2 separate regions of the Homo sapiens genome follow, and region 2 is linked to region 1. The links come from fine-mapping of genetic effects on gene expression. A gene starts in region 1. The other region holds a variant in brackets. All regions are shown on one strand. Distances are between the middles of the regions.

Region 1 (2,898 bases):
GGTGTGTAGTGGCACAATCTCGGCTCACTGCAACCTCCACTTCCTCGGCTCAAGAGATCCTCCAACCTCAGCCTCCCAAGTAGCTGGGACCACGGGAGTGAGTCACCACACCTGGCTAATTTTTTTTTCTTTAACTTGTTGTTCAGAGGGGTTTCGCAATGTTGCCCAGGCTGGTCTCGAACTCCTGAGCTCAAAGCAGTCCACCCAAAGTACTGGGATTACCGTGAGTCATGGTATCCAGCCCCTCCCCCTAACTTTTCAATGGCTCTGCACTGCAATCAGAATAAAACCCAACTTCTTCCGGTGGCCCTTGGGTTCTGCAGGACCACTCTGGACTCATCTGTCACCATACTGCTCCGGCCATCCCCTCCATCCACTCATGCTCACTTTCCATTTCTCCACCAGGCTCTTTCTCAATTCTCACCCTTCTGGCCTCAGCTAAAATGCCATCTACTCCAGGCAGCCTTTCCTGACCACGCTACTGAGACTGGCCCCCTCCATTCTCCATCCCAGTCCCTCATGTGTGTTCTTCAATGTCGTTATGAAAACCTCCAATGCTCTTGTTTGTCTGCTTGCTGTCTCCCTCATGAGGCTACAAGTGCCACAGGGGAAGGAAAATGCCGTTGTGTTCACCGGGATGTCTCCAGCAGCTTAGCACAGCATAAAGTGGAAGCAGAGGAAATATAGTCCACACTACAAAAACGGAACCTCTACCCAGACTGCCCTGACTTGCTCTGGGACCCTGATGGGGTCACTTGAGGTCAACTCCTAGGCCCAGTTATCGGAGGACACTCCCAGGCCTTACAAATAACACGGAAAGCGGAAGAGCAGAGCTGACATCGTTTCCAAGGCGCACCCCTCATCAGTCCTCCTGCCGTTTCGGGGGTCCGAAGGGTCTCCCGGCACCTGGCTCAGCAATTCTTTGGGGCTCCACCTGCTCAGGCTTCCCCAGGCCCCACCCAGCCGTGGCAGCATCACCGAGATAAAGAAAGAGCTTGCGCCAGCGGCGAGAGGAGGAAGCACCGGCGGAAACCCGAGGGAGGGGCGCGTGCGGCCGAGGGGCTCCCTCCCCACCACTGACACACTTGGGCTCGCCGGGGCCAGAGGAGAGAGGGGCGTCTCCCCACAGCCCAGCCAGGGGCAGGGGCGACCCGGGGCGGCAGGGAGGAGGAGCCAGGCGCCGGCAGCGCCCCGAGCCCCGGCTCCCGGCGAGGCCGACCGGAAGCTGGGAAGGCAGGCGGCCTCGCAGGCCTGGGCCCCGGCTAGGAGGGCTGCGCCGCCTCGGGGGTCCCGGGGCGAGGTGGGCGAGGCGGGCAGACCGCCAGGGTCACCGAGCGCCAGAGCGAGTCACGGGAGTGCCGGACTCTGCCCTCCGGCGGCGACGAAACGGCCCGGACGCCGGGGCCCTGGCCTGAAGGGGGGTTCCCCGGGGATGGAGGTCTCGGGGTTCCAGACGGCCCTGGAGGGCACCCCTGTGGGGTCCGGGCAGGGGGAGGGGCAGCCGGACGGGGCCCGAGGCGACAGCGCCCGGTCCTCGGGCCGGACTCACCTCGCGGCGGGGCGGCCGAGCCTCGGTGTGCCGGAACTTGGACACCCTGAAGCGGTTCATGGCGACGGGCACGGCGGCGGACGCGTCTTCGAGGACCCCGGGCGTCGGGTCTCAGGTGCACGCTGAGCAACCGCGACTCCCGCTGCCTCGGCCCCACCCGGGACCCAATGCCGCGGTCACGCCCCCGGCGCGCCCCACTGCCAATCGCAGCCGTCTCCGGCCCCCTGGGCCACGCCCCCAAGCCCCTCTCCTTTCGCGCGCGCACCACCGGTCCCGCCTCCCGGCCAATCCAGGTACGGCCGCCCCGCGAGGCCACGCCCTGATACCGAGGGGACGGACTGGCGCGGGTGGGAGGTCACGTGGGGCGCAGCTGTCAGCCCACGTCTCCTGCGGTGCTTGCTTGCGTGGGGTCTCGGCTGCAGCATTCGCGATTTTGTGTGCAGGATTTGCTGTGGAGTCTTTGCGGTGTACCTAGCACGCCTTCCAGCACTATCTACCTCTTCCTGTAGAGAGGGGAGAAATTAGCTCCATTTCAGAGACAGGAAACCCCCGGCTAAAGGAGAGTGTAAACTGTCGGTCCCCAGGTCACACCAGTGGTAAGAGGCAGAGGGGGAACAGGGGCCCAGGTCTAAAGCAAATCCCTGTCCACCGGGCCTACTCAAAAGCCTCTGCATCCGGCCAGGCGCTCTGCATCCGGCCAGGCGCGGTGGCTCAGGTCTGTAATCCCGAACTTTGGGAGACTGAGGCAGGAGTATCCCTTGAGCCCAAGAGGTCGAGGCTGCAGTTATCTGTGACCGTGCCACTGCACTCCAGCCTGGGAGACAGAAAGAGACCCTGCCTCTAAAAATAATAATAATAATAGCTTTTAATTTTTCTTTAGTATTTATTCATTTATTTGACACGGAGTCCCTGTCACCCAGGCTGGAGTGCAGTGGCGCGATCTCAGCTCACTGCACCCTCTGCCTCGCGGGTTCAAGCAATTCTCTTGCCTCAGCCTCCCGAATAGCTGGGATTACAGGCGCCTGCCACCGCGCCCAACTAATTTTTTATTTTTAGTAAGAGACGGGGTTTCACCATGATGGTCAGGCTGGTCTCGAACGAGACTCAAGCAGTCCTCCCAACTTGGCCTGCCAAAGTGTGGGGATTATAGGAATGAGCCAACGCACCCAGCTGATTCTTGCATTTCTAAGGTTTGAAAAGCAATGCTTACATTTTATCTTAGTTCGGGCAGAAGTGTATTTACTGTGAACCAAAGTCACTTGTGGTTTATTGAAAAGGCTTTTTGTTTGTTTGTTTTGAGACAGAGTCTCACTCTGTTGCCCAGGCTGGAGTGCAGTGGTGTCATCTCA
Region 2 (2,898 bases), 110 kb after region 1:
GGGCCTTGGGATGGAGGCCAGTGCCTAGGACAGCCATGGGACACCACACCAGCAACTAACTGACCACCTCCCACATCTTCCACATGAGTAATAAAACTTGGTTTACTGGTTAATTATTGGTAAATTATTTTCAGGTTAAGTATTAACAAGTGTCATTACAAATATACAGCACAGACAGGTGCAGTGGCTCACACCTGTAATTCCAGCACTTTGGATGCCAAGGTGGGAGGACTGCTTAAAGCTAGGAGTTCAAGACCAGCCTGGGCAACATAACAAGATCCCATCTCTACAAAAAAATAAAATTAGCCAGGTATGGTGATAGACACCTGTGGTCCCAGCTACTTGGGAGGCTGAGGCGGGAGGATTGTTCTAGCCCAGGGATTCTAGGCTACAAAGAGCTATGTCACGCCAATGCACTCTAGCCTGGGCAACAGAGTGAGACTCTATCCCCCCTCCACCACAAAAATATATCTCTACAGTTCCTTAGGTCTGAAGGAACACAAGTTCTCTTCAAGTGATCCATGATCAAAAGGATCATGGCTTTCTTTAGGTCACATGACACAGCCTCAGCCAGTACAGAGGCCAAGGCATGGGGAATACTCCCTGGCGGGAAGGCTGGAGCAGATGCTTCCGTAGTTAAAACAGGCCCCGAGAGAAGTGCAGCTGGTTGCCTTGGAGCGAGGACACATTCTTCTGCAACTCCAGTGCTCATTTCAGCATGAGCACTGGCTCAAGGAGGAGCTGAGGAGGACGATGGCGTGCAGTGAACGTTAATAGAGCATGCACTGTTTGGATGCAGGTGCCCAGCACAGGGACATGAAGGAAGTGCTCCAAGTGAGGAGGTGCTCAAAAGGGAGCCCCTGCTGTGAGACTGCTCCTGGGCCCCAAACCCTCTCCACTCCCCTCTCCACCATGCCCTATCCAAACCTGGGGCTAATCCAGCCACCCAAGTCCATGTGGGACCAGGCCAGGATTCCCTGTGGCCTTTCGCAGCTGACCAGAGGGACCCTATTCCCAACGCTGGGTGATGAGCAGGAAAGAGGAGGCCCTCCACAAAGGTCCACTCAGTTGCAGAGCAGCCTCTAGTGAGGCTGAGCCCTCCCAAGACTCAGGGAGGTTGCCAATGTGTCCCCTTCTCTGGGACCGTTGTCCTCGGCTGCCAAGTTCTAGCACAGGCAGGCCTGGAAAATCCTGAACATGGCCCATTTCCCATTGTCCTGATGGAGGCAGGACGAGACAGTCCCTCCCTCAGATAACATCGCGGGTGGCTCTGAACCATTTATTTATTTTTACACTTGAAGATGGGTGTATCTGATGCCTTGGGAATTCTAAACACTTCAAAACAAGCTCAACTTAAGTCACAGAAAGGACCAGAAAACAGATCTGGTTTTCCCATCTGCCAGCTCTCCTCCCACCCAACCCTACATGCTCCTCCTCGACCATGATGAGTCTCAGCGGAAATAAGACACCAGCCTAGCCAGGCACGGTGGCTCATGCCTGTAATTACGGCACTTTGGGAGGCAGAGGTGGGCGGATCACGAGGGCAGAAGTTCAAGACCAGGCTGGCCAACATGGTGAAACTCTGTTTGTACAAAAAATACAAAAATTAGCTGGGCATGATGGCATCCGCCTGTAATCCCAGCTACT[C/T]GGGAGGCTGAGGCAGGAGAATTACTTGAACCCAGGAGGCGGAGGTTGCAGTGAGCCGAGATCACACCGTCGCACTCCAGCCCGGGCAATAGTCTGAGAATCTGTCTCAAAATATAAAAAATAGCTGGTCACGGTGGCTCACACCTGTAATCCCAGCACTTTGGGAGGCCAAGGCAGGCGGATCACAGATCAGGAGATTGAGGCCATCCTGGCTAACATGGTGAAAACCTGTCTCTACTAAAAATACAAAAAAATTAGCCAGGCATGATGGCGGGCGCCTGCAGTCCCATCTACTCAGGAGGCTGAGGCAGGAGAATGGTGCAAACCCGGGAGGCGGAGCTTGCAGTGAGCTGAGATCGCGCCACTACACTCCAGCCTGGGCAACAGAGTGAGACTCCATCTCAAAAAAAAAAAGATAAATAAAAATAAAATAAAAAATAAAATAAAAATAAAATTAAAAATAAAATAAAAAAGACATCAGCCCAACCCCATGGCCCCAAACACCACTGCGCCCTCCAACAGAAGCATGAGCCCTGTGTCGCAGGCAGAGCTGCAGGGGCAGAATCTTGCACCGAGTGGGGCACAGGCATCAGGCCCCACGCCCACCACCCTGCCCTGCCACCTGACTCTCCAGTCTCAGATTTTTTTTCATCTGTGATATGGCGGTAGGAGCAGCCCCTTATCAAGAATTGTGATGAGTCACGGGAGAGGCCATGGGTGAAGAGCACACCACTGAAGGCCTGCCACAGGAGCCTGAGAGAGGAAGTACACGAGAAAAAAGAAGACACTGTTACTTTTTTTTTTTTTTTTAGACGGAGTCTCGCACTGTCGCCCAGGCTGGAGTGCAGTGGCGGGATCTTGGCTCACTGCAAGCTCCGCCTCCTGGGTTCACACCATTCTCCTGCCTCAGCCTCCCGAGTAGCTGGGACTACAGGCGCCCGCCAACACGCCTGGGTAATTTTTTGTATTTTTAGTAGAGACGGGGTTTCACCGTGTTAGCCAGGGTGGTCTTGATCTCATGATCTCGTGATCCACCTGCCTCGGCCTCCCAAAGTGCTGCGATTACAGGCAAGTGCCACCGCACCCGGTGACACTGTTGCTCTTAAGCAGAAGCAAAATCAAAAGGCAGACAGGACTCAAAGAATGGTTCTAAACCTAAAAGTACTAAGGCCTCTAGGAACTATGATGATGACAATTACTGTGCAATTTATATCATGCTGAATTTTAGTAAAACCTCCTGGCAAACCACTC

Evidence for each region.
Region 2: its variant is fine-mapped to the expression of CORO7 in whole blood (TOPMed, PIP 0.99).

What each region holds. Positions count from the first base shown.
Region 1 is chr16:4,414,910-4,417,807 of GRCh38, forward strand. It overlaps CORO7 (coronin 7), which reads right to left and starts at 1,687. Exons shown (of 28, transcript NM_024535.5): 1 at 1,550-1,687. The coding sequence starts at 1,609. It overlaps CORO7-PAM16 (CORO7-PAM16 readthrough), which reads right to left and starts at 1,687. Exons shown (of 31, transcript NM_001201479.2): 1 at 1,550-1,687. The coding sequence starts at 1,609. It overlaps LOC124903635 (a long non-coding RNA gene), which reads right to left. Exons shown (of 3, transcript XR_007064963.1): 3 at 1,816-2,052.
Region 2 is chr16:4,524,650-4,527,547 of GRCh38, forward strand. The region is part of intron 1 of CDIP1 (cell death inducing p53 target 1); the gene reads right to left. Among named protein-coding and RNA genes, the nearest start is that of CDIP1, 13 kb to the right of the region's middle. The variant C/T (reference allele first, on the strand shown) is at 1,648.